7 separate regions of the Homo sapiens genome follow, and regions 1, 2, 3, 4, 6 and 7 are each reported to be linked to region 5. Evidence: microRNA targets listed by miRTarBase, many of them from high-throughput screens and not tested one by one. Region 5 holds a microRNA gene; each other region holds the end of a gene's coding sequence. Distances are from middle to middle.

Region 1 (4,094 bases), not on the chromosome of region 5:
AGTAGAGACAGGGTTTCTCCATGTTGGTCAGGCTGGTCTTGAACTCCCGACCTCAGGTGATCCGCTGGCCTCGGCCTCCCAAAGTGCTGGGATTACAGGCATGAGCCACCACACCCGGCCCATAAATAATTTTTTAATGGAATAGGAGTAAAACAAAATTGTGTCAGTGTGGAAAGGAGTAGGGAAGGATTTGAGAAAATTAATAACTTTAGGGTTGTTAGGTATTCAAAGTCTCATTTAAATTGTTTTATAACTTAAGGCATAAATATTAACAGATTATTATTTATGTATTGCAGAGGAGAATTTGCGCTTTGGCTTGATGGAGATCTCTACCATGGAAGAAGCCATTCTTGTAAAACGTTTGGGAATCGTACACTTTCTAAGAAGGAAGATTTCTTTATCCAAGATATTGAAATCTGGGCTTTTGAATAAATAAAATGCTCTCTGTCTTAGCAGGAGAATGGCCCAAACCTGACATGGACAAGCATTGTTTGGAAAGTTCAAGAAGCAATACAGTGTAACATGTCACTTGTGCTTTAAAATTAGTCTGTATCACCATTTATTACAGTTATAATTTTGGAGTTTATTTTTCAAATCATGTTCTTGTCCCAGAGTTCTTTAGGTTAACACTAGGGACTGCGTCCATGTACTAGTATAACAGCTTGGGTTTGTTAGAATTTGGGCAACATTTTGATTATAATGACAACTTCATTTTCACATGTTACTCAGTTCCCTAATAGGATGGTGCTCTTTTGTTGAACCTGTATTGATTTTTTTTTTTTTAACTATATTGATTCGTTTACTAGAACAGTCTAATTGGGGCATTGAGGAAATGAAGACTGGATACTTCTGTATCTGTGAAGTTGGCACAGGTAACATTTGGACATGTTCATCTTATTCTTAGGAAGGAAAAAATCACTTGCCAAAATAATACATACTTCATAGACCACTGAGTTCTAGTTTTTATTCACACTACAACATTCTCTTTAACGATGTTGCAGGTATTCTCAATTTCCTTTTAAGAAAAATGAAATGTGAGGAGAATTCTGGTTGTAATAGATGACAGTACATATGATCTGCAGGTTTGGGCATATGCTTTCATCATTAAATTATCTGATAAAGTTACAAGTCACAAAGGAGAATGAGAACTTAATGATTCTATTGGATTTAATATATTAGCAAGAAAACATACTATTTACATATGTGTAGCTTAGTAAGGCATTAACATAAGTACAAAAACTATGAAACAGATGCATATTTCCTCAACATACTGTGTCAGGTATACTGTTTTATAATTTGGTTGTTTTAGCCTTATTGCACACCAACTCCCAAAATATAGGTTACTCTTGTTCAAAAGGAAAAAAAAAATTGTGATTTTCTTTGAGTGGTATATGTTATTAATTACCATTAGCATTTGCTCTTATAAAGGGCAATGATTATAGTAGACAATATTGTAACTCAGTAGACTTGTTGAATATGCAAACTTACTGTCAAGTGACCTCAAAAAAAAAATGAAAAGATAGAATACACTAGTAGTTCTTATCCTCTTTTGTAGGAAACCAATAATAGCCATTGTGGCAATAATTCATCAGTTGATTTTAAAGCTTCATGTTATGCAAAAAAGAATCCTGCTGTTATACATGTGACAGTGACTTTGTGCTGAAATTTCAGCTATTCCAGATAAACATTGTATATCTTGTAAATTAATGTTTAAAGGTGTAGTTTTGTTCTTACAGAAAGTGTTGATTGCCAGGTTGCTTATAGCACTTTAAGTTATTCTAAAAATGAAATTATAAGCCAAATATTTGGCTTAAGTAGATTTAGTTGTATAGCACTTACATATTTAGTTCTTTTGAAAGTTTAGATAATTATTTAAAGAAAGCATAATGCTAATGGAAAAGAAAATCTGATGTTCTATTATAATATGCTATTGCTGAATATGAATAGAAATACAGGGCATCATTTCCTTGTCTCATTATAAGTTAGTAACAATATATAGATTAAATGTTTACAATATAGGGAATTGTAAATAAATATATCAGTTTTTTTCCCCTTCGGTCTTCCACAGCAGTATTATTGTCTTTGTGGAGTTGACTAATGATAATTTAAAAATCCTGTAATGGATTTCTACTAAAATAAGGTCATAGTGGCATATACCAAATAAAATCAAATACAGAAATACAAATGAGTTTGGATTTATTGAATACTCATTTTCTTAACAAGTCTTTGATTAAGCCTACTACTATCTTTTTTTTTTTAATGCTTCTAATAGCTTACATTGTGGTGGTGGTGGTCATGGTGTTAGGAGTAATAGTGATAGGAGAATGCATTCAATTAGAGGGAGCATTACATTTTTTAAAATGGAGATGGGAGAAGGCACTTGACACATGGGAAAGTGTAAGTTATTTGATATTTTTAAAGTACATTGTTTTCATTTTGGGTGGAGAATGCATAACAAGCTAAGCCCCTTATCATAAACAGTTATGTGTGTGCAATGCCAAGAAATTTTGATATTTTGTATCCCGTAGGTTCAGTTAACATTTGAGAGGAGGAATGACATGATCAGGTGTATACTTTAGGAAAATATCTGTGAAAAATAGATGAGTAGAAGGAACAACTAGAGACAAGGGGAAAACAAGCCTTTTATAAAGTCCAGAAAAAAAATGATTAGGCCCGAATAAGAACAGTGGTAATGGTAATAAGGAAGCATGGATTTGGAAAGGATTTATGAGTTAGGATGAACAGGAGTTGATTATTGATTGGATGTCAGAAAAAGTTAAAGATAGCTCCCAGGATTTTGATTTAAGAGTTTAGTTGTATTATTTATCAAGATGGGCAAGGTACATAGAGGAAAAACAAAAAAAAGCAGGTGGCAAAATGAAGTTAGTCGTGGACTTTATGAGAGTATGATGTGAGAAACAGGAGAATAAACTTTTTGGGAGTAGGACATTTTATATACTATTCTGAAAGATGAACTTTAAAAGTCAACAAAAAACAATAAAACTCTTTCACTTTTTATATGCAAACAAATATGAAATTTATGTATTACCATTTGTAATACCATTGAAAATATCAGATATATAACAAAGTGAAGACCAAAATAGGAAGGATATACCATATTCATTACTGGCAGACAATATTGATTAAAAGATATCAGTTCTCTTAAATTATATTGACAGTGAAAATCTCACCCAGGCTTATTTTTTGGAAATTAAACTGATTGTAGAGTTTATATGGAAATGTAAAATCAAAGAATAGCTAAGCCATCATGGAAGAATTGAGTGTCTGGTCTTCAGTATCAGATAATCATGATTTATTAGAAAGCTGAGTAAGAAAGACAATATATTGGTCAAAAGTTCAGAAAGAAACTGATTTCTGAAGAAGGTGATACTGCTGTCTGCTCAGTAAAGAAGACAGTCTGTTCAATAAAAGATGGTGGATTAGGCCGGGTGTGGTGGCTCATGCCTGTAATCCCAGCACTTTGGGAGGCCAGGACAGGTGGATCACGAGGTCAGGAGATCGAGACCATCCTGGGTAACACGGTGAAACCCCGTCTGTACTAAAAATACAAAAAACTAACCGGGTGTGGTGGCGAACGCCTGTAGTCCCAGCTACTCGAGAGGCTGAGGCAGGAGAATGGCATGAACCTGGGAGGTGGAGCTTGCAGTGAGCAGAGATCGTGCCACTGCACTCCAGCCTGGGCGACTGAGCAAGACTCCGTCTCAAAAAAAAAAAAAAAAAGATGGTAGATTAATTGGATATCTATATGGAACAAAAAGTCTTATCTCACACCACAAACAATTAGAGATTGAAAAATAATTGTGAAAAGCAAAACAATAAAGACATTAGTTTATATAGGAGAATATCTTCATGACCTTAGGGTAAGCATATATTTCTTTAATGGGACACAAAAAGCACTAAATATAAAGGAAAAAAATAAATTATGCTACATTAAAACTTTAAGCACTTCATCAAAAGACATCATTGAAAGTAAGAAGGTGTCCAATAAGAGTGAAAGCTGTTGTTTTCTCCAACTTTTATTTTTGGTTTGAGGGTACATGTGAAGGTTGGTTTCATAGGTAGACACGTGTCAC
Region 2 (4,000 bases), not on the chromosome of region 5:
TGGGATCTGGGTCTGGGGCCAGTTCCGTGGGTGCCCGGGCTGGGCACAGCAAGGATGGGGTCTGTTTGATCAGCAGTTCCACCCGATGCCAGGCTGCTGGGACAGCGGGCAGTGGCCAAACCGGCCCTGCCACATGCCTCTGGCCCTCGGGGAAGTGCTGTGCATCGCCGTGTGCACGGCTCTCGCAGGATGCAGGCTGGGAGGCCCTGCCATGGCCAGGCTCTGGGGAGGAGCAGCGGAGCCTGTGGCCAGCTGCAGGCTGTTGAGCTTCTGGGGGCCTCATGCCACCTTCCCAGGCCTGGTGAGAGCAAGGCAGTCCCCAGGGCTGTGGAGCCAAAATCCACCAGACCCAGCTGGATGGACCTACAGGGACCCTGAAAGCCAGACCCCACCCTGGTCAGAGGGAAGCAGAGGCACAGGGCCCAGTGGGGCCTGCTGTCCCTTCTTCTTACAGCAGCTCTGGCCCAGCCCCCAGTAACCAGGTGCCAGGCCCATGGCCCTCCTGTCCCCGCAGCCTGAGCCTGGTGCTGTCCAGCAAGGCCTCAGGGTCTGTGTCCAGTGCCCCAGCTCCCCTGGCTGGGTGGGGACAGCCCAAAGGTGCCTGGAGGCAGGTAGGCATGACTTGATCTCAGGGGTGGGCTCTGGGCAAGGGTGTCTGGTGTGAGGATGGGAGGGACGGCCCACAGAGGGGCAGGAGGAAGCCAGACAGCTGGGGGCACATGAAGGCCTCGGGGGCTCGTCCTGGGTGGGCAGAGCATGTGTCCCCACCGGTGGGGCCGCAGCTGCAGGTACATCGCATGGGGATTCCACACACACTCACTTTTCCGATTCCAGCTTTTATTGGGCCGAGCACTCCCCTCCAGGGGAGGCTGCCGTCAGAAGGGTGGGGACGCAGCACCTTGGTCGCCATCACCCCCATCTGGGCCACCCTGACCCCCGTCTCACCCAGGCAAAGGGCCTGTTGCTGGCAGACTTTGGGGTGGGCAGGGGCTCAGTGGGGTGCCCGGCAGCCAAGGGACAGTGCGAGTGTCTCGGTGGCATCAGGGGCCCCAAGGGTCTGTTGAAGCAGGAGGAGCCTGGTTCGGGAGATGGGGGATGGGATGGGGGGTGGGTATGGGGAATAGGGATGAGGGATGGGATGGGGGATGGGGTCAGGGATGGGATGGGGGATGGGATGAGGGATGAGATGAGGGATGGGATGGGATGGGGGATGAGGGATGGGGGCCGCAGCCATCCCCCTCTCCGGTACCCAGTGTAGGTCACAATAATTTAAAGACACTATAGACATTTCGACGCTATATAACAACATAAGTTAACCAGGTTCCTTGCAGAGGCTGCCGGGCCTATGGACTCAGGTGTGTTCTGGGACTTGGGGAAGGTAAGGGGATGGGGCCAGGCTGAGGGTGGGGCATTCACGGTGGCCCGGAGACTCAGAGCGTCCAGGCATGGTTAGAGGCACATGGGCTGGACCACAGGGCCAGAGCCCAGGAGGGACCCACTTGCCCCAGGCTGAGCCCAGGCCCTTGGCTTGTCGGCTGCTCAAGAACACATTCCTACGGGCTTCCAAGAGAACACACCCTAAATGGGGGCCAGGCCGTGGGCAGTGGGGGTGCACCAGGAGCCAGCTGCAGACCATCCTCTCTGGCCTCGGACAAGTTCCTCCCTCTGTCACTCATGCTCCTCAGAGACAGGGGTGGGAGCATCCAGAAAGGACATGTCCAGCTCTGGATCCAGATTTTCTCAGCACTGGGGTCAGGGTAAAAGGACCAGGACAGGGCTAGGCGAAGCCTCAAAGGCACCGAGGGGAGTGCAGGCCCCAATGAGGCTGTCAGGGGGTGGAGGGAGCAGCCAAGTGCCTCAAGGCATGGGAGCTACCTACTGCCACCCCGGGCATCCTGATGTGTTCTCCCAGGTCCAGAGCCCCAGGCTGGGCAGGAGAAAGGTGGAAGCCTCCAGTCACAGCTGCAGGGTCTCTGGTAGGTCCTTGTGCCACTCTGGGCCTCAGAGTTCCCATCTGTCAAGTGGGACAAACATCCCTGACCACTCACCACCTGCCTGACCCCCGCGGCAGCACTGTCCCAGGGGTCAGGCTGGCTCCAGGGGGAAGGGGGTCTCTGTAAACTGGAGGTGCCAGGCCGGGAGGGTGACAGGATGAGGGAGGGAACGAAGGACTCCTGGAACCTGACGTGGGTGATATTTTGATTTGCTTGATATTATTTTCTTTTCTTTTTTTGAGACAGAGTCGTGCTCTGTCACCCAAGTTGGAATACAGTGGCACAATCTTGGCTCATTGCAACCTCCACCTCCCGGGTTCAAGCAAGTGTCCTGTCTCAGCCTCCTGAGTAGCTGGGATTACAGGTGCACGCCACCACGCCCAGCTAATTTTTGTATTTTTAGTAGAGACAGGGTTTCACCACGTTGGCCAGGCTGGTCTCGAACTCCTGACCTCAGGTGATCCACCTGCCTCGGTCTCCCAAAGTGCTGGGATTACAGGTGTGAGCCACCGCGCCCAGCCATTGATAGGATTTTCAAAAGAAGGAAAGACGGCATGGAGGAGCCTGTCCATGGCTCTCCTCCAAGGCCCGGTCAGGGCTGTGTGGTCTGAAGAGCCCCTGCCCAGCTCACTTCTAGGACCTGCAGGCACCGCGTGGTCCCCATCAACCCCAGGCTGCCTCAGCTCTGCAGGGGCAGAGGGCCGGCCAGGTGGGGCCGGGAAAGGAAACAGAGGGTGTCTAGGGGATGGGCTGACACAGAGTACGGAGTTAGGACTGGCTATGTGTTAGTGCCGAGAATCCTCTTCTGATACTAAGAAAACATAAATAATTTGTGTCAACATCTGTCCCCACCGCCCCAGGGCCCAGCGGCAGACCCAGCCTGGGAACTGGTCTGGAGAGGCCAGCCGGCGTAGCTTTTCTGTGTCCATGCCGCCAGGTGGGGCTGGGGACGCTCAGTCTCCTCATCACTTTGCTCTCTGGGATACAGGTGTGTCCTGGACGTTCATTTTCCCAGAGAGAAGAAAGAGAACTTGCCGGGCCCCGTCGGGGAGCACCAAGACCCCTGGCCTTGCTCTCTGGGTGGGTCACGGGTGCTGTTCTGCCGCAGGAGGTGATGGGAGGAGGTGGCAGGAAGGAGCCCCAGGGAGGCGGGCAGAGGGCGTGGGCCCCGGCCGGTGCCCTCCTGCACCTGGAGCTCCCCGCTTCTGCACCCGTCTATGTCTGCTGCTGGCAGCACCAAGGCAGGGAAGGTGAGGAGTGGATGTGCAAAATGCCGCCGGGTTCCAGGGTGCCCGCGGCCGCCTCCGGGCCTGGCCTCACTTGCAGGTGAAGACCTCGGTGCGCTCGCTGCAGGTGTTGCACTTGACGAAGCAGCACCAGTGGAATTTGCAGTTGCACTGCCACACCTTGGTGTACTGGTGGGTGTTGTAGCCTCGGCCGCAGCACATGGTGTCACAGCCGTCCGCGCCGGGCGACGTGCGGTTGCAGAGACGGCCCTGCGTGCCCACGCTGCCCGTGGCCGCGTCCTCCTCGCAGTAGTTGGGCGACTTCTCAATGTACACCAGGTCTGTCTCCATGGGCTTCTGATAGCTGCGCAGCTGTTTGATGCGCAGGAAGGTGGGCTGCCGCAGACGGCTGGCCCGCACCACCTCCACCTGCACGGCCGCGTTGTACTTCTCCTTCAGCAGGTGGCCCACCTCTCGGAACTTGGGCAGCGTGGTCCAGCAGGTTTTGGTGGTGCAGGAGCCAGACACGCCGTGGCACTTGCACTCCAGCTGCATCCGGTCCTCTAGAACCTGCGGGTGACAGGGAAGCTGCTCGGCACGGCATGGCCCAAGCTGGGCCCCTCTAGGTTCCCCTACCCCTGCCTCTAGCCCAGCCCTGGAGCCCGCTCCTCCCCTTGGGCTGTGTGACCACAGGTGAGTGTCTCTCCCTCTCTGACCCTCAGCCTCCTCACCTATTACATGGGGCTGCTAACAATAGGTCTCCACTGCATAGGAGGTTGT
Region 3 (4,000 bases), not on the chromosome of region 5:
ATTTCCTGTGAGGGGTAATAAAGAAGAAAATTCAGGACCTTCTCATGACCCAAGTCAGAATGAGACACTGGGCATCTGCAGCTCGAATTCTCTGTCTTCCCAAGACGTTGCAAAACTCAGTGAAATGATTGTGCCTGAAAATAGAGCCATTCAATTGAAACCTAAGGAAGAGCATTTTGGGGATGGTGACCCTGAATCCACTGGCAAGAGATCGAGTGAGTTGCTGGATCCCACAACACCCATGAGAACTAAATGCATAGAGCTTCTTTACGCAGCTTTAACTAGTTCTTCCACAGATCAACCCAAAGCTGATTTGTGGCAAAACTTTGCAAGAGAAATTGAAGAGCATGTTTTTACCCTTTATTCAAAGAACATCAAAAAATATAAAACTTGCATCAGAAGCAAAGTTGCCAATTTGAAGAACCCCAGAAATTCTCATTTACAACAAAACTTGCTCTCTGGGACCACGTCTCCACGAGAATTTGCTGAAATGACTGTCATGGAGATGGCAAATAAGGAACTGAAGCAGTTGAGAGCCTCCTACACGGAATCTTGTATCCAGGAACATTACCTTCCCCAAGTAATTGATGGCACACAGACAAATAAAATAAAATGCAGACGCTGTGAGAAATACAATTGCAAAGTCACTGTAATTGACAGAGGAACACTTTTCCTTCCCAGCTGGGTGCGGAATTCAAACCCAGATGAACAAATGATGACTTACGTAATTTGTAACGAATGTGGGGAGCAGTGGTACCATAGCAAGTGGGTGTGCTGGTAACTGTAAATCAGTGTTCTCTTAACAGATAACCGGAGTGATACCTTTTATTTGTACAACCCTTTTGTGCTTTTAAAAATCTTATACACACTACTCTCTAAAACAGAAAAAGGAGGAAAGAAAGTCGTTAGCTGAAGCTGCCACCACCATCCCTAAAAGTTACAGTTTGGGGAGAGGGAGTGGATGACTATTTATATTGTGCCTTGTGGCCATTTAGTACCTTACTGTAGACAGAGTGTGGGTGAGAACAGCCCAGCATAAACTGGGAGACTGTGGGAAATGCATTCCCAGGCCTCACACCATTGAATCCGAATCTGCATTTTGACAGGATCCCCAGGTAATCTTCCAGGATAGGATAGTTTGAGAAGTGCTACTTTAGCAATAGGCCTGTGGCTCTCAGCAGTGGCTGCATATTAAAATCATCTGGGAAGCTTTGAAAACCCACTGGTGCTGAGACCCCACCCTAGAACAATTCAGTTGGAACCTATGAGATGGGACCCAGGCATCAACATTTCTTTTTTCATTCCTCAAGTTATTTTAAGATGCAGTCAGAGTTGAGAACTACTCAGAAATAGGCTCTCATTTGATCCTTTTTACAGCTCTAAGACAAGAATGTTATTCCAGGCACTTCACGAATGAGGAAACAGGTCCACAGAGGTGTGGTGACATGTCCAAGTGACACAACCATAAATAGTACCAATTCTGACAGATCCCAGATTTTCTCCCTCCTGACTCACTGAGACTGGCTCAATATCGACTTCTGAGAAATGTATTCCTGGAGGTCGGGGACAAAATGAAGAATGTGTTTAAACTCCAACATTGGGTGACTAGATCTTCATTCTTTTCCCCTCTCTTTTCTCATTTATAGGTCTCCCTTCAACCACAAAAGTCACCCTGGAACTCATCCCGCAGTTAGAATTTTGTTTGGAGCCCTCTTGCTTAGTTGAAGGAGTTTCGTAGTTGTTTTTTGTTTTTGTTTTTGTTTTTGTTTTTTCCCCCTGTGAACAGGTTTTTCGGGGGTATGTAAACTCTAGGATGTTTAGTTTCTGATGTCAGGAGTCTTCATGTTCTCAAGGACAAGTGTCCTTGAGATGGACATTAATGGTCATTAGTCTGTCAGAGGAAGCCCATCACTTTAGCCTTTGAATGTAGTAACAGACGTTTATCTAATAAATGAATTGAAGATAAAATTACCTCTTTGAGGCCTTTGCAAACAGTGTTTAACCAGTTTATATAATTGTTTGACTACAACACGCCTTCTATGTGATTATGGCTGATTTTTTTTCCTTAAAAAACTCATGGAATGTTCACCGTTTTATAGTTTTAAAAAGTTTACTTTGGCGGTCTCTACAAACCTACCATTTCACTTTCTCACCAGTTCTTTTCTCCTAACTCTCTTCCTTTGTTGGAGCTCTGAAGGCCTAACTGTGTGTACACTTTACCTGCCTGACAGAATTCTCCAAAACATGCATAAAAGTAAAATATGTTCGTATTTTCAAATAATTTGGAAGAGTCGGCTCAATGCCATCAAGTGTAAAATCTATTTTGATATACTTGCTCTCCGTGTCTTCCCAGGGCTGCTTTTTGTGATGCAACATGTTTAGTCCTTAACTTGCAAGGTCATCTAAAACTTGAAGTTTCACAAAGTGTGGTTTCATATGACTTGGAATAATCTGAAAAACTATTCAGTGGTTACGAAAGAGCACAGCACATAAAAACCAAATTTGATTAGTTCAAGTCGGTGTTTATGTTTTGCTTTGGGGGTTTGTGTGTATGTGTGTAGTTTTTATTTATATTGGAATTTGGCAAACTAAATGTTCAGACAAATAAAAGTAATTAAAATGGAAATTTCCTTACTCTCCAAAATATAAAAACCTTCATGGTCTGGCCGGGTGCGGTGGCTCATGCTTGTAATCCCAGCATTTTGGGAGGCCGAGGCGGGCGGATTGCCTGAGGTCAGGAGTTCAAGACCAGCCTGGCCAATATGGTGAAACCCCGTCTCTACTAAAAATACAAAAATTAGCTGTGCATGATGGCGGGTGCCTGTAATCCCAGCTACTCGGGAGGCTGAGGCCGGAGAATCACTTGAACCCAGAAGGCAGAGGTTGCGGTGAGCCAAGATCACGCCATTGCATTCCAGCCTGGGCAACGAGAGAAACTCCACCTCAAGCAAACAAACAAAAAAACCAATCTGCGTGGTCTTCCTCATTTCATTTCATCTTTATTCGTGAGTTTTGCAACTTGAGATAGGAAAATAGTAATCTGTGTGTTTTTCTTTTGGTTAATGAGACAGCATTACATTTTCTGCCTATAGGTAATTCTTTCAGATCCTATGTCCTTTCCCCTAAAAGGAAAGGACTTTCTTTAAAATTGACTGCAGGGTAAAGATTTTTTTTTTTTTTTTTTTTTTTTTTTTTTTTTTTTTTTTTTTAGACAGGTTCTCACTCTGTCATCAAGGCTGGAGTGCAGTGGCGCCATCTCAGCTCACTGCAGCCTCAACCTCCCGGGCTCAAGCAATCCTCCAACCTCAGCATCCCCACTCCCTTGAGTAGCTGGGACTGCAGGCACGTGCCACCATGCCCAGCTAATTTTTGTATTTTTTGTAGAGACAGGGTTTCTTCATGTTGCCAGGCTGGTTTCAAACTCCTGGGCTCAAGCGATCCTCCCAAAGTGTTCGGCCTCCCAAAGTGCTGGTATTATAGGCATGAGTTACCGTGCCTGGCCAAGACTCTTTAATTTAAAATCGCTTTTTCAGAAACAGCAAATGGAAGACCCTGAGACAGGAGACTGCCTGATACACGCAAGTTCCAGCAAGAGTCCACGGCAGCTAAGTCACAGTGAGCAAGGGGAACAAGGATGAGAGATGCAGTCAAAGAGGCCATCGTGAGGGCTCTTGTCGGTCGGCCATGGTAAGGATTTGGGGGCGTTTCTTAAAACATGATGGGAAGCCACTGAAGCTGGGGAGTTTGTGGTGATGAGATTTAACACCCTTTAGGAAGGATCACTCTGGCTGTTATATTGAATTAGAAGGGAAGGAAGCAAGGATGCATGCAGGGACAACAGGTGACCCTTGGCAGTGATCCAAATGTCAAATAACTGGCTTCAAGCAAGAGTACACAGAGTCTGGGCTCCCCGAATCCTTATAGTCAGCAAAGTCCTTGACAACTTTGCAAATGGATATTTCATAAAATACACTAAATCCCAAGTTCCCTACCCATGGCC
Region 4 (4,094 bases), not on the chromosome of region 5:
ATTGCTATATGTAAATTAAAGCCAGGATTAAATCTACTAGTCCTACATTGTAGCCTCCTCACGGTGTGCTGTGTTTGTTTTGTTTTTAAGAGTTCTGGGGAAATCCCCTGGAAAGACTCAATTAAAGAGCAGTGAAGAGAGTGCAGATCCCGTCACTGGAAGTTCAGAAAATGCAGTGTCATCTTCAGAACTGATGTCCCAGACTCCCAGTGAAGTTCTGGGTACCAACGAGAATGAGAAACTGAGCCCTACAAGTAATACCTCATATAGTTTAGAAAAAATCTCCAGTCTGGCCCCTCCTAGCATGGAGTACTGCGTTTTACTCTTCTGCTGTTGTATTTGTGGTTTTGAATCAACCAGCAAAGAAAACCTCTTGGATCATATGAAAGAGCACGAGGGTGAAATTGTAAACATCATCCTGAATAAGGACCACAATACAGCTCTAAACACAAATTAGGTGGAATAATGACTCGAGCAGGAAAGCAGTAGAAGAGGATTCCTTCACCACAGTTTCACCTTTACGCTGTCAGACAACTTCCTGCCACAGAAGAAGTCGTTGATGTGATTTTTGAGGAAATGACAGATGTGACTTTGGAACCAAACTTGTAATAAAAGGAATTCCAAATGGACAAGCAGTAATGATATTTAAATATTTTGAGTGAGGGGGAGTGGGTCAAAGAGGAAGTAGAGGTGTAATCCTGTATTAACCCTCTGTCACCCCTTCTTAGTGTCGAGTGTATTTATTAATAAAAGCTTATTAGAGTGTAGAAATGCCAGCAAGAGTTAAGAAAGGGCTTTTCAGGAACTATTCTAAAAGTCATAAAAGGGTCACAGTCTTAAGCAGAGCTTAGTTTTCTTCTCACTTGTCAAATGCAGACTGTGAGGCCTCCAGTGAGAAATGGGAGGCAGTTCTGGGAGGGGGTTTTTTCAGTGTCACCAACAGAGTCAACAAGGAAACATAATTAGAGGGCTTTGAAATGATCTACTGAAATACCTAAATTGATAGAAATTAATCATACTCAATCTAGGACATGTTCCTTTACTCCTTAAAAAAGAAAGGAAAGATCTCTAAATTCAAAGCTAGATTGTAAATAGGCATTCAAGAAGTATTGTCTTAAATTTACGATGAATTTCTTGTGAGCAGAGGACGAAACAGGTGAATTCTCACCAGACTCAAACCAGATCTCAATTCGTAGTAATGCTAAATCGTCTTCCGTGTTCTCAGAGGTTCTTTTCAGTGTCTGTCAGAACTTGGCATACTTTCTCCATAGTACGTAGACCTTCTAATACTCTGCTAAATGAAACCACACTTGTTATCTGAAAGTGTGTGAAAGAAACAATGTATGAAAATTTACATTTGATCATCCGGCATTGGAAATAGTTTGAACTATTTCCAAAAATCCCTTAGGGGATGAGGGGTGAAATTTAAAAGCTCCTGAAAATGAGTACTGCTGTGTTGAGCTTTTCTTTCCTGGGGTATATTAATTTAGTTATATTTAGCAGAAGAGGAATATAACCAAATGTGACTAAAATATAGCAGAAATTCAGGTTGTTTGTAAAAATTTTAATAACAAATAGCATTTGGCAAGTCTATAGGATTCTTCCTATCTGGAAATTCTATTTTGTTAGAGTGCGATAGGACATATGGAAAACCAACACAAAGTGCTTTAGCATTAAAACTCACCATCAAATAGATGTAATCTTATTAATTACACATTTTGTATTTTAATTATTTCAAGGAGTGAAGAAAACAGGGTGTTTTTGTTTTTGTAGTTCTGATTACTCATTTATGCATTGTTTTGTTTAAGTAAATTCTGCCTACAAGTGAAAAGGTCGGTGCGCTCTTCTGTGCACCATCCTCACGGTGCTATTTCCGAATATCTGAATATTGATTTCTAACACCTGGATGAGGCTGTGACCGATCAACTTGGAACACTGTAAAGGTTTTCGAATGGGATACGCTGTAGGCACGTTTTAAGAAGTATTCTGTTCCTAAAGTCCAGGTATGATTGGATTAATATTTATAAAATTATTATTAGGAATTATTTAAGTGGGGCCAGGCATCTTGCAACATTTTCTGATTTTTTTTTCTTTCTTTCTAATCTCATTTTGGTGATATTTAAACAAACATAAATGATTGTAACTTTGCAGCTTTTTTATTTAGGTAGCTTTAATTTATTTATGAAAGTTAATCCATTTCTGATACGTGGTTTTTAAAAATATGAAATGGATTTATATATACTATATTCCTCAAATCCACTGTATGTGGACTTATATTCATTTTCTCCTTTTTTCGGAATTGAAACATTTTAATTTCAAATTCAAATAGAACATTTAAAATGATTTCATTATTATTACCCATACTGTTGCCACTCATATTGTAAGTCAGTTTTTTCATTGCTGGTACAATGACTCAGTATTTCTTTATAAAAATCTGTTGTTCTGAAAATCAACAACCTTAGAAGGATTTTGTCTTAGAAAATTTCCTTGGCTTTAGTTTTATATCATATTTAGAAAATAATAATGAAAAGCATCCCCAAAATTTCAATGATGTGAATTTTTAAATTACCTTTATTTCTTTAAACTAATTCCATTGATTGTTACTTAAATTTTCCACCTGGAATCATGGATTTAAAATTTCCCCACCTCATGGGGAAAAAACTAACCCAGAAGTTCAAAGCCTTTAAAGTTTCATCTGATTCTGGCCTTAGAATTGTCCTTAAAAGCTTTCTCCTGGCCGATAGGAGGAAGCATATATCAAGGAGGTTCTTTCCCTTCCCATTATCATTTTGTGGCAAGCCTTAAGTTAACAATGTGTCTACCAAGAACAATTGAGTTTTCTAAAAGTAATAATGAAGATTATGCAATTCTAACTGTAGAAGAGATAGCTATTAAAATAATCAGTAGCCTGGGCATAGTGGCTCACACCTGTAATCCCAATACTTTAGAAGGCCAAGGCTGGAGGACTGCTTGAGTCCAGAAGTTTAAGACCAGCCTGGGCAACACGGGGAGACCCTGTCTCTACAAGAAATTAAAAATTAGCCAGGCATAGTTGGCACGTGCCTGTAGCACCAGCTACTTGGGAGGTTAAGGTGGGAGGATCACTTGAGCCTGGGAGATAGAGGCTTGCAGTGAGCCGTGATGGCACCATTGCACTCCAACCGGGGTGACAGATGAGGTCCTCTGTTTACCTCCCCCCCCAAAAAAAAAATTCAGTAGGAATTCCTTCATAGAATAACATGTTATTTATTGGTATTGACTTCTTATTAGACAGAGCTCATAGTATTTGTTTTCTGCTCCGAACACTTAAAAAATACTAAGACGTGATAGTGAAAATAGCTTTGAAAAGAAACTACATATGGCAAAGGTGGGGAGGGGGGAAGATGATGCATTCTGATCATTATAAAGAATACTTTTCAGGGCTCTATCATTTTCTCCCTTTCTCTAATCATCCAGAATATGGCGGGTGTCCCAGTGTTCAACAGTATCATGCTAATATTCCATTTGATCGGTAGTCCAAGTTCTTTGGCCAGATAGTGCAATGTTGTGACACCGACCGAAGCCTTTGTTCTGGATCTTTCTTCCTATTGAAGGTGGCTGCTGGTGGCTTCATAATTTTCTGTTTTTTTTCTCACAAAGTAAATGGTGGGCATCCATGTTTACATTGCACCTTCCCGTGCTGTAATTGGCTTGACAAAGACAAGCAGGCTTCTCTGTTGAGACTTATTGTGTTTTTAGTTTTCATAGACACTTATTTAATCTTTTTAAATTGTACAGCAAGGTGCTCTAAGTAATATTCGATAAAATATATTTAATAGAAATTTGCGTTTGATATTCATGAACATGAATACATGTATTTTTTTAAGAAATAAGTATTGTGTAACACTATGGCATTGCTTCTATAGCCAAAGTATAAAAATTTCTGGAATACTGACATGTAAAGACTACAGTTAATTCTGACACTGTATCTTATTAAAATAGGATGATTTGCATTTTGTAAAATTATCCTGCACATCAAGCTGCATGCCTTAAAGCGGAAACTCTAGGACTGTGTTCATGGGAGAGCAGTTCATCTGTTCAGAACAGTGAGGCAA
Region 5 (4,094 bases):
GTGTCTCTCCCGGATGGAAGCTCCAGAGAGCGTCTGTCTTATCTCTGTGGGGGTCCCCGTGCACGGTGCACAGGAGACTCAGGGAATACTTGGAGGAAGGGCCAGTGGCTGTTCCCGTGAGTGGCCGCAGCGTCTCCCTGTCCCCTCCCTCCACAGGCCTTTGAGATCATGTTGGCTGCGGGCGAAGGGAAGGGTGTCAACAAGAGGATCACCTACACCAACCCCTACCCCTCCCGGAGGACATTCCACCTGCACAGCGACCACCCGGAGCTGCTGCGGTTCAGAGAGGACTCCTTCCAGGTGTGGTGGGGCTGTGCCTGGGACTCCTAGGGGAAGACCCGGGGACCTGAATGGAGGGCAGTTAGCCTGCATTTAGGAGCGAGTTCCTCAAATCACCAGCAGTCTTCCAAAAGCCCCAGGGCGGTGACAGGTACCATCCCATAGTTGGGTGGGCCCGTTGTATCTTTAGTAGCTGGAGATTTAGCAAAGTTTCTCCTGAGTGTGGGAAAGGGTGTTGTGCCCAGGGCTTTTCATGGTAATGTTAGACAGCTCAGTCTCGGAAATAAGTGTGCCTTCGAGTCCAAGTAACGCGTCACACTGGCTGAGCACTGGTTCCCATCCTTGTACCGGGCGCTGAAGTCAAAGGCAGGCCTTGGATGCACCCGCAGGGCTCCCCTGCCTTGTCAGCTCCCCTTGGAAATAAACACGACCATGCAGAGAGGTTGCTGGTGAGAGCGTGGGACAGCCCGGGGGTGGATGCTGGGATTTGGATGCTTATTTCCAGGTCGGGGGTGGAGAGACCTACACCATCGGCTTGCAGTTTGCGCCTAGTCAGAGAGTGGGTGAGGAGGAGATCCTGATCTACATCAATGACCATGAGGACAAAAACGAAGAGGCATTTTGCGTGAAGGTCATCTACCAGTGAGGGCTTGAGGGTGACGTCCTTCCTGCGGCACCCAGCTGGGGCCTGTCTGTGCCCCTCCTGCCCTGCAGGCTGTCCTCCCCGCCTCTCTGCAGCCTTTCACTTCAGTGCCCACCTGGCTGACCTGTGCACTTGGCTGAGGAAGCAGAGACCGAGCGCTGGTCATTTTGTAGTACCTGCATCCAGCTTAGCTGCTGCTGACACCCAGCAGGCCTGGGTTCCGTGAGCGCGAACTCCGTGGTGGTGGGTCTGGCTCTGGTGCTGCCATCTACGCATGTGGGACCCTCGTTATCGCTGTTGCTCAAAATGTATTTTATGAATCATCCTAAATGAGAAAATTATGTTTTTCTTACTGGATTTTGTACAAACATAATCTATTATTTGCTATGCAATATTTTATGCTGGTATTATATCTGTTTTTTAAATTGTTGAACAAAATACTAAACTTTTACACGTCTTCCCTTGGCAGTTTTCTTGAGTGTCTGCTGGCGCAGTGTCAGAGGCTTCCTGTCTACAGCACAAGCCCGGTTTCTCCTTGAGGAGACATGGTGGGGGCCGGTCAGGCAGCCCATGCCATGTGTCCTCATGGAGAGGCCGCTCAAGCCTGCCCTGGGTGGGGGCTGAGACCCCGGCTCTGAGACGGCAGCAGTCGGGTAGAAGTGCGAGGGGCGGAGGGTCCTGTGCCCCTGAGCGGAGGGTGGGCTGCACCCAGCGGTGGTTGCAGAGAGCACGTGGCCCCATTGGTCCTTGCAGTGAGGTGCGGTCCTCGTTTGCAGAGATCAGTCTCGGTGGGTGGTCTCTGCTGCGTCTGCATGCTCTGATCCTGACGCAGTCCCCATCCTTCAGAGAGAAATTTCACTGGCACTGTAGTTGGACCCTGAAGGTCAGAGCTGTGGCTTTTTCCTGCGTCTGTGCCAGGGGCAGAGAGAGAGTGGAGATGCCTCCTCGGGCAGTGTGTTTGTATCCTGGTGCTGCTTCTCACGAGACAGTCTGCCCTCCCTTCCCACGGACTCTCCAGCTGGACAGGACTGGCTGACACAGTTTTCTTTTGAGGGAGCTGGATTTTCTCACAGGCCCCAAGGCTGAGTCCTAGGCAAGGGAACAATTGTAAGATGTCCAGTCCTTCAGTCCTCATGGAAGAGGCTCCGGGGAGTCCAGGAAGCCACATGTGGGTTCCATCCAGCCCTGCCCTGTGGGGTGGAGAGTCCTCGTGGGCCCTGCAGGCTGGGTGGGCCTACAGACTGCAAGAAAGTGCCTGGCCTGTGCTTGCAGGATGTCCATGCAGAAGCGGAAACCACAGCAGCAAAGGAGATCCATCCATGGGCTAGAAAACCTCCTGTGGACGTGTCCCTTCAGCGTTTGTAAAGCTGCACTCTCCCTGCTTTAGAGTGTCTGCCTTCTAGGGGCTGCTGGAGACATCCATTGGAGGCCATGGCGGTCGTTGGTTTACTCCCTCACTCCTTCATCTGGTACCACATGCCTGCTGTGGTCTCCACCCTCTCAGAGGCTCAGGAACATAGGGAAGGCCCATGGTACCTGGGACACTCAGCTGTTGCCAGCCCGGAGTGGGAAGGAAGAGGTGCAGCCTCCCACAGGAGGATGGAGGTTGGCGGGGGCTTCCCACGAGTCGATCTGAGTGGGTGAATAGGGGAGGGGAGACCTGGGCAGAGGGCCATGGGAGCTGAGGCCCGGGGCCAGCGGCATGGTGTGCCCAGAGTCCTAAGGAAGGCCACCAGGCTGAGAAGCCATCCCTGATGCAAAACAAGGTCCTTTCAGGCCATGAGGAGGACTTTTATCTGTATCAAAAAGCGTCAGGAAGCCTTTGAAAGGTTTTATGCAAGGATGGGTGTATTTGGGTAAGATGGGGGCAGTAATGTGGAGAATTAATTGGAGTGGGCCCAGATGTAGGCAAATGAGAGGCTGCTGCAGTAGTTGGGAGGGAGATGATGGGAGAATGGACAGAAGAGGCTATATTTTGTTCAGCTGTGAGTGATTGAAAATCCAAAATAACACTGTCTTAAACAAGATGGCCATTAATTTCTCTCACATTTAAAAATCCAGGTAGCTGGTGTAGGGCTGGCGTGGAGCTCCACCATCACTGTGCTCCCGTCTTTTTCTGTCTTACCATTGTGCTGTTCTTACCACGTTGCTTCCACCTTGTATCCTGAGATGGCTGCTGCAGCCGCTGCCATCACCGCTCCATTCCAGTCAGCTGGAAGCTGGGGTGAGGCACATAGCTCCTTCTGAAAAGTTACTGTCCGGAAGCTGGACCCGTTTCTCTGCTTGCATCCTTGTGTTCGTTTCCTATGGTTGCCTAGGTTGGCCTCTGTCCACGCCAGAGCTGGCTTGGAAAGACTGAAGGAGTGAGGTGGAGGCTGGACTCCAGGGGGGAAGGAGTCACTTAAGGTGTTTCTGTGTCTTTTCAACATGTACCTGTGCGGAGTAATGATATCTCTCTGGCTTGTCCCTGTTGTCATCTGGGTTGGGATTCTCCATGTTGCTTTTTCTTGAAGGCGGCCTCTGAATTTGCACGCCTGCCTCAGGGCAAACGCTGAACAGCCAGGGATCCCAGCTTGTCCACACCCTATGCTGGCTCAAACGTGTGCAGTCATGATACGGAGCCGTCTCTTCGAGTCGGATGTCCAGGCCTCTGGTCACAGCGTCACCTGGCCAGAGCCTCCGAGTAACCCAGGTGCCTGGTCACTTCCCTGGCAGCTCTGTGTGGAGAAGGTGCAGCTGTGATTTACTGGGTCTTGTCACTGCAGGCACCACCTGGGCAGCCCACCCATCCCTGTCCACTCCGTCTGGCTCTCGCCCTGCTCCTGCTGTTCCCCGTCGTACCACGCGAGGGCAAGGCCTGCCCCGTTAGCCTGCTGCTTCCGCAGCGCCGCTGCACTCTCATTAAGGGTCTGGGGAATGAGCCACTGTGATGGGTGCTGAGTCGTGCGGGCAGGAGGCTCAGACTTTCTCCTAATAGGTGCCTTTAAAGTAATGTTGATGGATGTGATTATGAAGCTATTATGTCCCATTTGTTCCTACAGTCTTGCTGGGGAGGGTGACCGGGACCATTTTATCCTTCCCTTGCAGAAAGTCTCGGTCAGATGCATTGTACTGCAGGGGAGGCAGGGTCTCAACTGCTCAGACATGAGGCCCAAGCCTGAGATGAGCCAGG
Region 6 (4,089 bases), not on the chromosome of region 5:
CTTAGAACCTTTCCAAATACTCTGGGAAGTTATTTCCAGTTTAGAATTTCAGAATGTCAGCCTTGAACAGATTTAAGCAAATCTGGTTTCTTTCCTTATTAACAAGTTAGTTAGGATATTTCAGAAACACAAGTTATTGATGTGAAATTACACATGTGAATTCAAAAATAAAAATTAGAAAATCAGGAAAACCTGCACACATCATCATGCAATGAAGGACTTACCCCTTCTTTTCAGCCATGGCCTAGGCTGCCTGCTAAGTTAAAAAACAACAGTTTCAATCAAGGTTTTAAAACCAGATTATGCCTAAATCTTATGAGTTATAATTTCTGTCACATGATGTGAAAAAAACACAACCCCACAAATGACTTGGTAATAATTATCTCAGAAGACAACTCTGAGAACAAAAAACAAAAAACACATCACACCCTTCCAGTTAAAAACTATTATCGTAGTGAGATACTAAATTATTTAAATACAATCAAGAAAACGAAGTTTGCTAGCACAGTCTGTTGGAGAGAAATGAGAACTTCATTTAGTGAGCTTCATTTAATGATTCTGTCTTACTTGCATAGACCTATCACAGCTAAGAATTAGTGCTTCTCAGAATCCAAATGGCTTTTACTAAAATAACTACAAAGAAATAGAAATTGAGAAAAAGGTAGTGGTGGGATGGGACAATATAATAATATATCCTTATATGTAGAAATAGACTTGCAGTTTCTCACGCCCACTCCAGTCTAAATTAAATGGATTTAAAGTTGATTTTCAACACATTTATTAAAAACTTTTCACCTAGGCAGGGATACTAATTTAAAAATTTCAAGTTCTTAGTATAGAGCCCAAGACCTACAACTTGCAGCAAATAGCCAAAATTTCTGGTTGTGCTTTTCTCTTTTGGTATTTGATCACTAACAAGAAGATTAACTATAATGGACTAGGGAAAAAAAAAATCACTGCACTTGGAATTTGACTTCTAGAATGGTATGACAAAATGTCTAAGAAGGTAAAGACAGTTCTTAAGAAACAGGATAAATCATTGGACAGGTGGCTCTTTGGGAGGCCAAGGTGGGAGGATTGCTTGAGGAAAGGAGCTTGAGACCAGCCTGGCCAATAAGGTGAGACCTCACATCTTAAAAAACCAAAACAACAACAAAAACAAGAAAACCACATTGTAAACTGTTAGGAATCCTTTATATTAACTGAGCATTAAGAGTAAATTTGAGGGCTGGGCATGGTGGCTCATGCCTGTAATCCCAGCGCTTTGAGAGGCTGAGGTGGGCGGATCACGAGGTCAGGAGTTCGAGACCAGCCTAACCAACATGGTGAAACCCCATCTCTATTAAAAATACAAAAATTAGCCGGGCGTGGTGGTACACACCTGCAATCCCAGCTACTCAGCAGGCTGAGGCAGGAGAATCACATGAACCCGGGAGGTGGAGGTTGCAGTGAGCTGAGACTGCGCAACTGCACTCCAGCCAGGGCGACAAAGCGTGACTGTTTCAAAAAAAAAAAAAAAAGTTATTTTGAGGCCGGGCGTGGTGGCTCACACCTAATCCTAGCACCCTGGGAGGCTGATACGGGTGGATCTCCTGAGCCCAGGAGTTGGAGACCAGCCTCGGCAACATGGAGAAACCCCATCTCTACCAAAAATACAAAAAAAAAATTAGCTGGGCGTGGTGGCGCGTGCCCATAGTCCCAGCTACTCCGTATGCTGAGGTGGCAGGATGGCTTGCATCCAGGAGGTGGAGGTTGTAGTGAGCCGAGATCATACCACTGTACTCCAACCTGGGTGACAAAGTGGGACCCCATCCCCTGGCCCAAAAAAAAAAAAAAGTCAATTTGAGTGCTAACTTTTATAAAGCTCAGGAGACATAAGATAATTCGAATAACGTATAAAACTAAATAAAAGATAGCTTCAGTGATCTTTTTAATTTTTATTTGAGACACCGTCTCTCTGTCACCCAAGGTAGAGTGGCATGATCACAGCTCATTTCAGCCTCAACCTTCCCAGGCTCTGGTGATCCTCCCACCTTGGCTTCAAGTAGGAAGGACTACAGGCACGTGCCAGCTACCACACTCAGCTAATTTTTCTACTTTTTGTAGAGACAGGATCTTGCTATGTTTCCCAGGCTGGTCTTGAACTCTTGGGCTCAAAATCTGCCCACCTCAGCCTCCTCCAAAGTGTTGGGATTACAGTCATGAGCCACCGTGCCCAGCCCATAAACCTTTAAAAGCCAAAATTATGTACCCAAATTTGGTATCCTAGGCTCAGGCAAAGTTTGAAAGTGTGGGGCAACTGGATAAAATATAACAATCAGAAATAATAAGGCTTCTCTTTAGCAACATTTCTCTAAATTGTGACTTCCTTCCCATTTTGGAAAAAAACAGTTTCTTGTAGAAAAGAATAATGGACTGGGCACGGTGGCTCATGCCTGTAATCCCAGCACTTTGGGAGGCTGAGGCGGGCGTATCACCTGAGGTCAGGAGTTCAAGACCAGCCTGGTCAACATGGTGAAACCCTGTCTCTACTAAAAGCACAAAAATTAGCCAGGCGTGATGGTGGGTACCTGTAATCCCAGCTACTCGGGATGCTGAGGCAAGAGAATCACTCGAACCTGGCAGGCAGAGGTTGCAGTGAGCCGAGATTGCACCACTGCACTCCAGCCTGGGCAACATGAGCAAAAAAAAAAAAAAAAAGAGAAAAGGAATAATGAAGATTCTATATAATATGCATTAGAGCAAAAATTAAAATGGAAGGCATTGAGTGTCGATTGTCATAGGCATTATTTACACTCATTAACATATCCTCAAATAATCCTGCAACTCCTGAAAAAAATGTTGAAAAAATTTTAAATGCCTTTGATTTCCCAGTCTACACTAATACTTTTCTTCTTAGAGAAACAAAGTTCACACATGTAACTTGCTCTGTATTTAGTCAATTAGCTAAAGATCTATACTTTTGCCAACTACCGTCACCTCAGATTGAAGGCTTAAAGTCTATAAACAGCTGCTAATGAAAAATATTCAAAAAATGCATGAGCCAGTAAAAAATTTCTCATCAGTCACATCTTCTAGGAAGGAAACTGGCATTTCTAGATAAACATAAGAAAATATCAATGCAAACATTCTCAAATTATCTTGCTGAAATATTGAGTGTTTTCATTCAAATTTCAGTCTCACTATTGCACATGCCTCCTGCAGATGAGGGCTCAATGCAGAAGTCAGATCTTGCCAAAACCAATCATTTAATAAAAAATGAAAAAGAATATCAAAGTAAATGTGCAAATAAAATTGGTGCTTAAAGCATGTTCAAAACGTAAGTCCTCAAGACAAAGGAGTCATAACTCGTTGGCAGGAAAACAGCTAAGCAACTACACCTGATTTTTCCACTTGTCCTTAATAAGATCTTATTTAGCTAGCACAAACAAACAAACCAAAGACAAAAATTGCAAGCTAACAAAATGACCATGTATTGAACTGAGTCTCCCATTCTTTAGTTTTTAACTCTATTTCCTTTATATGGGGTAATAATCAGTTCATGTAGAAAATAAGTTATCGACATACTTTTTTAAATAACAGCCTGGGTATCTTCAGCTTCACGAAACGGGTGTAACAGTTTTAATCGGCACGCTTGAGAGAACCTAGCATTCAATCTGAGAGCTTGGCACTCGCCTCATGTTCAGGGCGTGACGATGTATCTCTTGCATCTGTCTGATGCGGTCCTTCTGCCACATCAGGTTTTGAGGCATAGGGTATCTCTGTGTGCCATGCAAGTACCGGTATGGGATCCTCACGTGACAAGCAGTGGCTCTACAACGAGGTTGTGGCATAGGAGGAAGAAGCATCCACCTCTTCCTCTCCGCACAATATCGGTAGGCTTCTTTCCGATACTGTTTATCAATATCATCACTGTTTTTCCAGCCTCCTATAATGAAGACATCATCTTTGTAATAGCAAATGGCTGCTCCTTCGATGCTTAGGACTTCTGGAGGCAAGCTTTCAAGGATCTCATCAGACACTTGGCTGGCAATTTTTCTTACTGCCTCTTCGTTTTCTAAACAATAACTCTTGGGACAACATGATGCT
Region 7 (4,094 bases), 100 Mb from region 5:
TTAATCCTCATAAAAGCTCAATTAGGTGGATGCTTTTATCATCATCCTCATTTTGTGGGCAGAGAAACTTAAGGCTCAGAAAGATTAAGTCATTCAGTCTGGTTCTAGGGTTTGTGTCCTTTTTTTTTTTTTTTTGAGACAAGGTCTGGCTCTATTACCCAGGCTGGAGTGCAGTGGTGCGATCTTGGCTCACTGCAGCCTCTACTTCCTGGGTTTGAGCCATCCTCCCACCTCAGCCTCCCTAGTAGCTGGGACTACAGGCATGCACCACCACAGCTGGCTTTTTTGTATTTTTTGTAGATATGGGTTTCACCATGTTGGCCAGGCTGGTCTCTTAACTCCTGGCCTCAAGTGATCCACATGCCTTGGCCTCCCAAAGTATTGGGATTACAGGCGTGAACCACTGCCCAGCTAGGGTTTGTGTTCTTAATCATCACCCTATATTGTCCCCAGGTTAACTCCCTTTCTAGTTTTTTTGTTTGTTTTGAGATGGAGCCTCGCTCTGTCACCCAGGCTGGAGTGCAGTGGCACGATCTCAGCTCACTGCAATCTCCACCTCCCAGGTTCAAGTGATTCTCCTGTCTCAGCCCCTGGAGTAGCTGCGATTACAGGCATGTACCACCGCACCCAGCTAATTTTTTTGTATTTTTAGTAGAGACAGAGTTTCACCATGTTGCCCAGGCTAGTCTCAAACTCCTGATCTCAGGTGATCTGTCCACCTCGGCCTCCCAAAGTGCTGGGATTACAGGCATGAGCCACCGCACCCAGCTGCCTTTCTAGTTTATTGAATGGAACTTCGACAAACACAAAACTTGGAACTAGGCCGGATGCGGTAGCTCATATCTGTGACCCCAGTTTGGGAGGCCAAGGCGGGAGGATCACTTGAGCCTAGGAATTCAAGACCAGCCTGATCAACATAGTGAGACCCCGCCTCTATTAAATTTAAAAAGCATATATACTTTTAAATATATATCATATATATACACAAAAACAAAACTTAGGCTGAGAAGTAATGTTGCAAAGCACACACTTGGCTTCAGTATGAGTAGCTGCTTCATTTTCCAATGGGAAAAAAAAAACAAAAAACAACCCTGAGCAGTATAGTTAGGAGGCACTGAGTCACTGACCACCATTCAATTCCAACCAGCCTCTCAATGCAGCCCTCCCTGCTTCTTGAATTCTGCCCCAGAAAACTCATCCCTGTCTAGGACTCAGCCCTGAGGGGCTGGGCTGGAAGGCTGCCTGCCCCGTGCAGCCTCTCCCACCGTAGAAGTCCTTTCCGTCCTGGTGAAAAGGACACCTTCCTGCCCGCCCACCATGTCTTCCTTGGAAATGCCAGGAAATGGGCTCTGTGCTGATCCAGCTATTTGGGAGCAGTGTCATGGACATGGGCAGAGGGACAGGCTTATCAGCCAGTGGTGTCTGAGTCTCCCGACCTCCCGGTGGGGCCTTCTGGGCCCTGCCGGCTCTTCTGTTTTCCAGAGACCAGACCTTCCTCCCTGTGGGAGGACAGGGTACCACACAGAAGCGGACAGTGACAGTGCTGTACCCGCACAGAACTAGTTTATTCAGTAGTATGGGGCATGAAAAAACAACAACAACAAAACGCTACCCTATTTACAGCAACAACCAAACTGTACAATCTGATGGTTAGTACCAAGTTAGCATCCAGCATCTTTGTATTTTTTTTAAATCAAGTCATCAGTAGTAAAAACCAGTTAAATTTTTAACCCTTTGCAGGAATTGCTGAGGGGAGAAGACGGGGGAGAATCCACGGCAGAAAAGCCAGAGGCTGGCCTCACAAATGAGAAACAGGAGCCTTTCTTTCCTGCCCACAGCCTCTTTTTCTAGCCACCTGCTCCAGAAGGAAAGTCAGTGACAAGTCTGGAATACATGCTTGGAGTAAATGGTGACTCAGATGAAAAGCAGTCGGCAAAACTGAGGAGAGGGGAGGAGAGGTGGGGAGATGATGGCCTGGGGCAAGGGGAAGGGCGTCAAGCCCCCAAGCCAGGGCTGCTGGGAACACCCAGCCTGTGATGGCCATATCAGACCCCCGGGACTGGACACGAACCCATCCCAACACAAAAAGCAAATAAATAAAACAAATATATTAACTCTCTCTTCACAGGGAGCTGGGGTGGAGTCGGGGAGAAAGAGGAACAGGACCTGGTCCTTTGAAGAAGAGAGCCAATTCCAAGAAGGGGTTAAAAATAGAACATGTCTCAGAGGCCACAGCAGGTTAGACAAAGTAGCATTTGTCTGATTTTGGGGGGTGGGGTGGGTGAGTGGACACCAGAACCCAGACTTGAAACCTGTGCTTGATTGAGCACCCTCAGGGCAGCCGAGCCAGCACTGTGTTTACTCTTCCTCCCCCACCCACATCACAGCAAAGAAGCGCAACTTAACACATGACTGGCCTGCCCGGGGCGCGGGGCGGGCACGAAAAATGAAGCACTTTTGGGTCAGCAACTGAGCAAACACCTGGGCTGCCGCGCACGGCCAGAGTCCAGGAAAAGGAGAGGGGCTGGGGCTGCCCGACCCCCGCCTGGGGGCACAGGCTCCCCTGAAAATGTGTTCATGCAGCATTTGGGGGTCCAGGGGCGCTGAGTCCTTCTGCCCCCTCACCGGACAGGGCTTTTCCAGTTCCTGGGAGAGGCAGTGCGGGCAGGACGAGGCACACCCTTTGCCCTGGCCCCTCACCGTTCTGAGGCCTGCCCGGGTGCAGCCTGAAGGGTGTGAAGCCCTGGCTGCGTGTGGCTTTGTCCTTTCCTTTTGGTGATGGCGTATGAGGGGCAGGCCCCCCAGGAGTCCCTCTCCTCCCAGAGGCACAGCAGATGGGAAACTGAGGAGAGGCTGGGAAGCATCCTGGGAGGTCCTATCCTCTTTGGGAAGGGAAAGGGGAGTCAATTTCCAGCGTATAAAAAAAATGAATCCCTGAAGTCATGAAGAGTGGAGATCCTTTTTTAAATTCTTTTTTTCCTCTTTTCTGAAAAACTTTGTCTTGGAGATGTTGGCCCCAGGGGTCCAAAGTGCAGTGAGGGGAATGGTGGGGGGGGAGTTGGCACTAGATGGCCTTAGGTGGGGTGAGTACCCCTCCCGGCAAGGCCCAGGCTCCTCAGATGGACGTTTCGTCGCTGCTGCGGGCAGGCGATGGGGAGCGGGGCAGGATAAAGCACAAGACAGGAGCAGGGCATGAGTGCGGCTGGGGAAGGGAAGGGAGCCTCGGGCGTAGGAACCACGGCCCAGGGTTAATGCAGGAAGTTAAAGAAGAGAAATCTGGAGAGGCAGGAAAGGAAAGTGGCAGAAAAGGCAGACAGAGGGTTAGTTGAAACAGAGGAGAGAGTGAAAGCTTTCACCAGACGAAGGAAACAGGAAAGCACCCCCAGCTCCCCATCCTCCCGCACTCTGCCCTAGGCTGGGCTGCGCCGCGTAGAGCCTAGGAGGGGTGGCCCTCCCCGCAAGGCACCATGGTTTGTGGGCACGGCATAGTAAGGGAGCTGGGCCAGTTCTGCCCATTTGTCCTCCAAATGCCATCCAGAGTCACCTGGGGAGGCCCGGAGGCAGCTCTGGGCCCAGGTGAGGCCTCCGAGGGGCTGCACCCCGTCCCGCCCACCCGGCCACACTCACTCGGAGCCTGACGAGTCCTCATCCACCGTGCCTGCCTTGATGCTCATGGCGATGGGCATGACCCCGTTCAGCTGCTCCTGGAGGCTCTGCCGGGGCGGTGGGCGGGGAGGGGGGCCTCCCCGGCTGCCCTCACTAGCGGAGGAGCCCCGGGAAGACCCTGTGCATTGCTCCAGGGGGAGCCGCAGGAGGCTGCTCTTCTCGCTGATGGTGGGCAGACACTTCTTCTTAAGGATGCCTGTGGGCCGGGGCGGGGCTGTGAGGTGCGGCCACAGGAGAATGTGAGGTATGAGGCTGCTGACTAGGGGAGCTCGGCAGCTGGGGGTGCCCCACTCACCTTTGTGAGGCTGGGCAGAAGAGCCTGGAAGGGGGCCTAGGGACCCCTCTCGAGACAGGGCATCTCCATTCTCCCGCAGCCGCTCCTCAGGGGCCCCGTTGCCACTACTCTCTTTTGCTGTGGTCCCAAAGTC

The links. The annotated mature microRNA hsa-miR-4689 reads UUGAGGAGACAUGGUGGGGGCC and lies in region 5 at 1,458-1,479, shown strand. An mRNA with a match to its seed (bases 2 to 7 or 8) in the 3' UTR can be bound and repressed. Matches are read on the target gene's strand: a 7mer-m8 pairs with bases 2 to 8, a 7mer-A1 pairs with bases 2 to 7 and ends in A, and an 8mer does both.
Region 1: miRTarBase lists OXR1 as a target of hsa-miR-4689. Seed matches in the 3' UTR shown: 7mer-A1 at 1,260-1,266.
Region 2: the mRNA of WNT7B is a reported target of hsa-miR-4689. Seed matches in the 3' UTR shown: 7mer-m8 at 3,246-3,252.
Region 3: miRTarBase lists TCEANC as a target of hsa-miR-4689. Seed matches in the 3' UTR shown: 7mer-A1 at 1,303-1,309.
Region 4: the mRNA of ZNF507 is a reported target of hsa-miR-4689. Seed matches in the 3' UTR shown: 7mer-A1 at 2,248-2,254.
Region 6: miRTarBase lists KLHL11 as a target of hsa-miR-4689. Seed matches in the 3' UTR shown: 7mer-A1 at 1,082-1,088.
Region 7: the mRNA of CELSR2 is a reported target of hsa-miR-4689. Seed matches in the 3' UTR shown: 7mer-m8 at 2,844-2,850 and 7mer-m8 at 1,940-1,946.

Annotation. Positions count from the first base shown.
Region 1 is chr8:106,750,510-106,754,603 of GRCh38, forward strand. It overlaps OXR1 (oxidation resistance 1), which reads left to right. Exons shown (of 17, transcript NM_001198533.2): 17 at 297-2,185. The coding sequence ends at 432. Among named protein-coding and RNA genes, the nearest start is that of ABRA, 18 kb to the right of the region's middle.
Region 2 is chr22:45,919,546-45,923,545 of GRCh38, forward strand. WNT7B (Wnt family member 7B) reads right to left here. Exons shown (of 4, transcript NM_058238.3): 4 at 821-3,790. The coding sequence ends at 3,311. Among named protein-coding and RNA genes, the nearest start is that of WNT7B, 56 kb to the right of the region's middle.
Region 3 is chrX:13,662,784-13,666,783 of GRCh38, forward strand. TCEANC (transcription elongation factor A N-terminal and central domain containing) reads left to right here. Exons shown (of 5, transcript NM_001297563.2): 5 at 1-2,626. The coding sequence ends at 781. It overlaps LOC107985656 (a long non-coding RNA gene), which reads left to right and starts at 3,292. Exons shown (of 3, transcript XR_002958816.2): 1 at 3,292-3,687.
Region 4 is chr19:32,382,627-32,386,720 of GRCh38, forward strand. ZNF507 (zinc finger protein 507) reads left to right here. Exons shown (of 7, transcript NM_001136156.2): 7 at 91-4,094. The coding sequence ends at 457. Among named protein-coding and RNA genes, the nearest start is that of DPY19L3-DT, 21 kb to the right of the region's middle.
Region 5 is chr1:5,860,096-5,864,189 of GRCh38, reverse strand. It overlaps MIR4689 (microRNA 4689), which reads left to right and starts at 1,449; the gene lies at 1,449-1,518. It overlaps NPHP4 (nephrocystin 4), which reads left to right. Exons shown (of 30, transcript NM_015102.5): 29 at 157-300; 30 at 785-1,379. The coding sequence ends at 925.
Region 6 is chr17:41,850,096-41,854,184 of GRCh38, forward strand. KLHL11 (kelch like family member 11) reads right to left here. Exons shown (of 2, transcript NM_018143.3): 2 at 1-4,089. The coding sequence ends at 3,645. Among named protein-coding and RNA genes, the nearest start is that of KLHL11, 13 kb to the right of the region's middle.
Region 7 is chr1:109,273,204-109,277,297 of GRCh38, reverse strand. It overlaps CELSR2 (cadherin EGF LAG seven-pass G-type receptor 2), which reads right to left. Exons shown (of 34, transcript NM_001408.3): 32 at 3,962-4,094; 33 at 3,628-3,862; 34 at 1,547-3,276. The coding sequence ends at 3,249. Among named protein-coding and RNA genes, the nearest start is that of PSRC1, 7.9 kb to the left of the region's middle. RefSeq lists cis regulatory regions at 2,330, 2,315-2,334 and an enhancer at 1,015-3,046.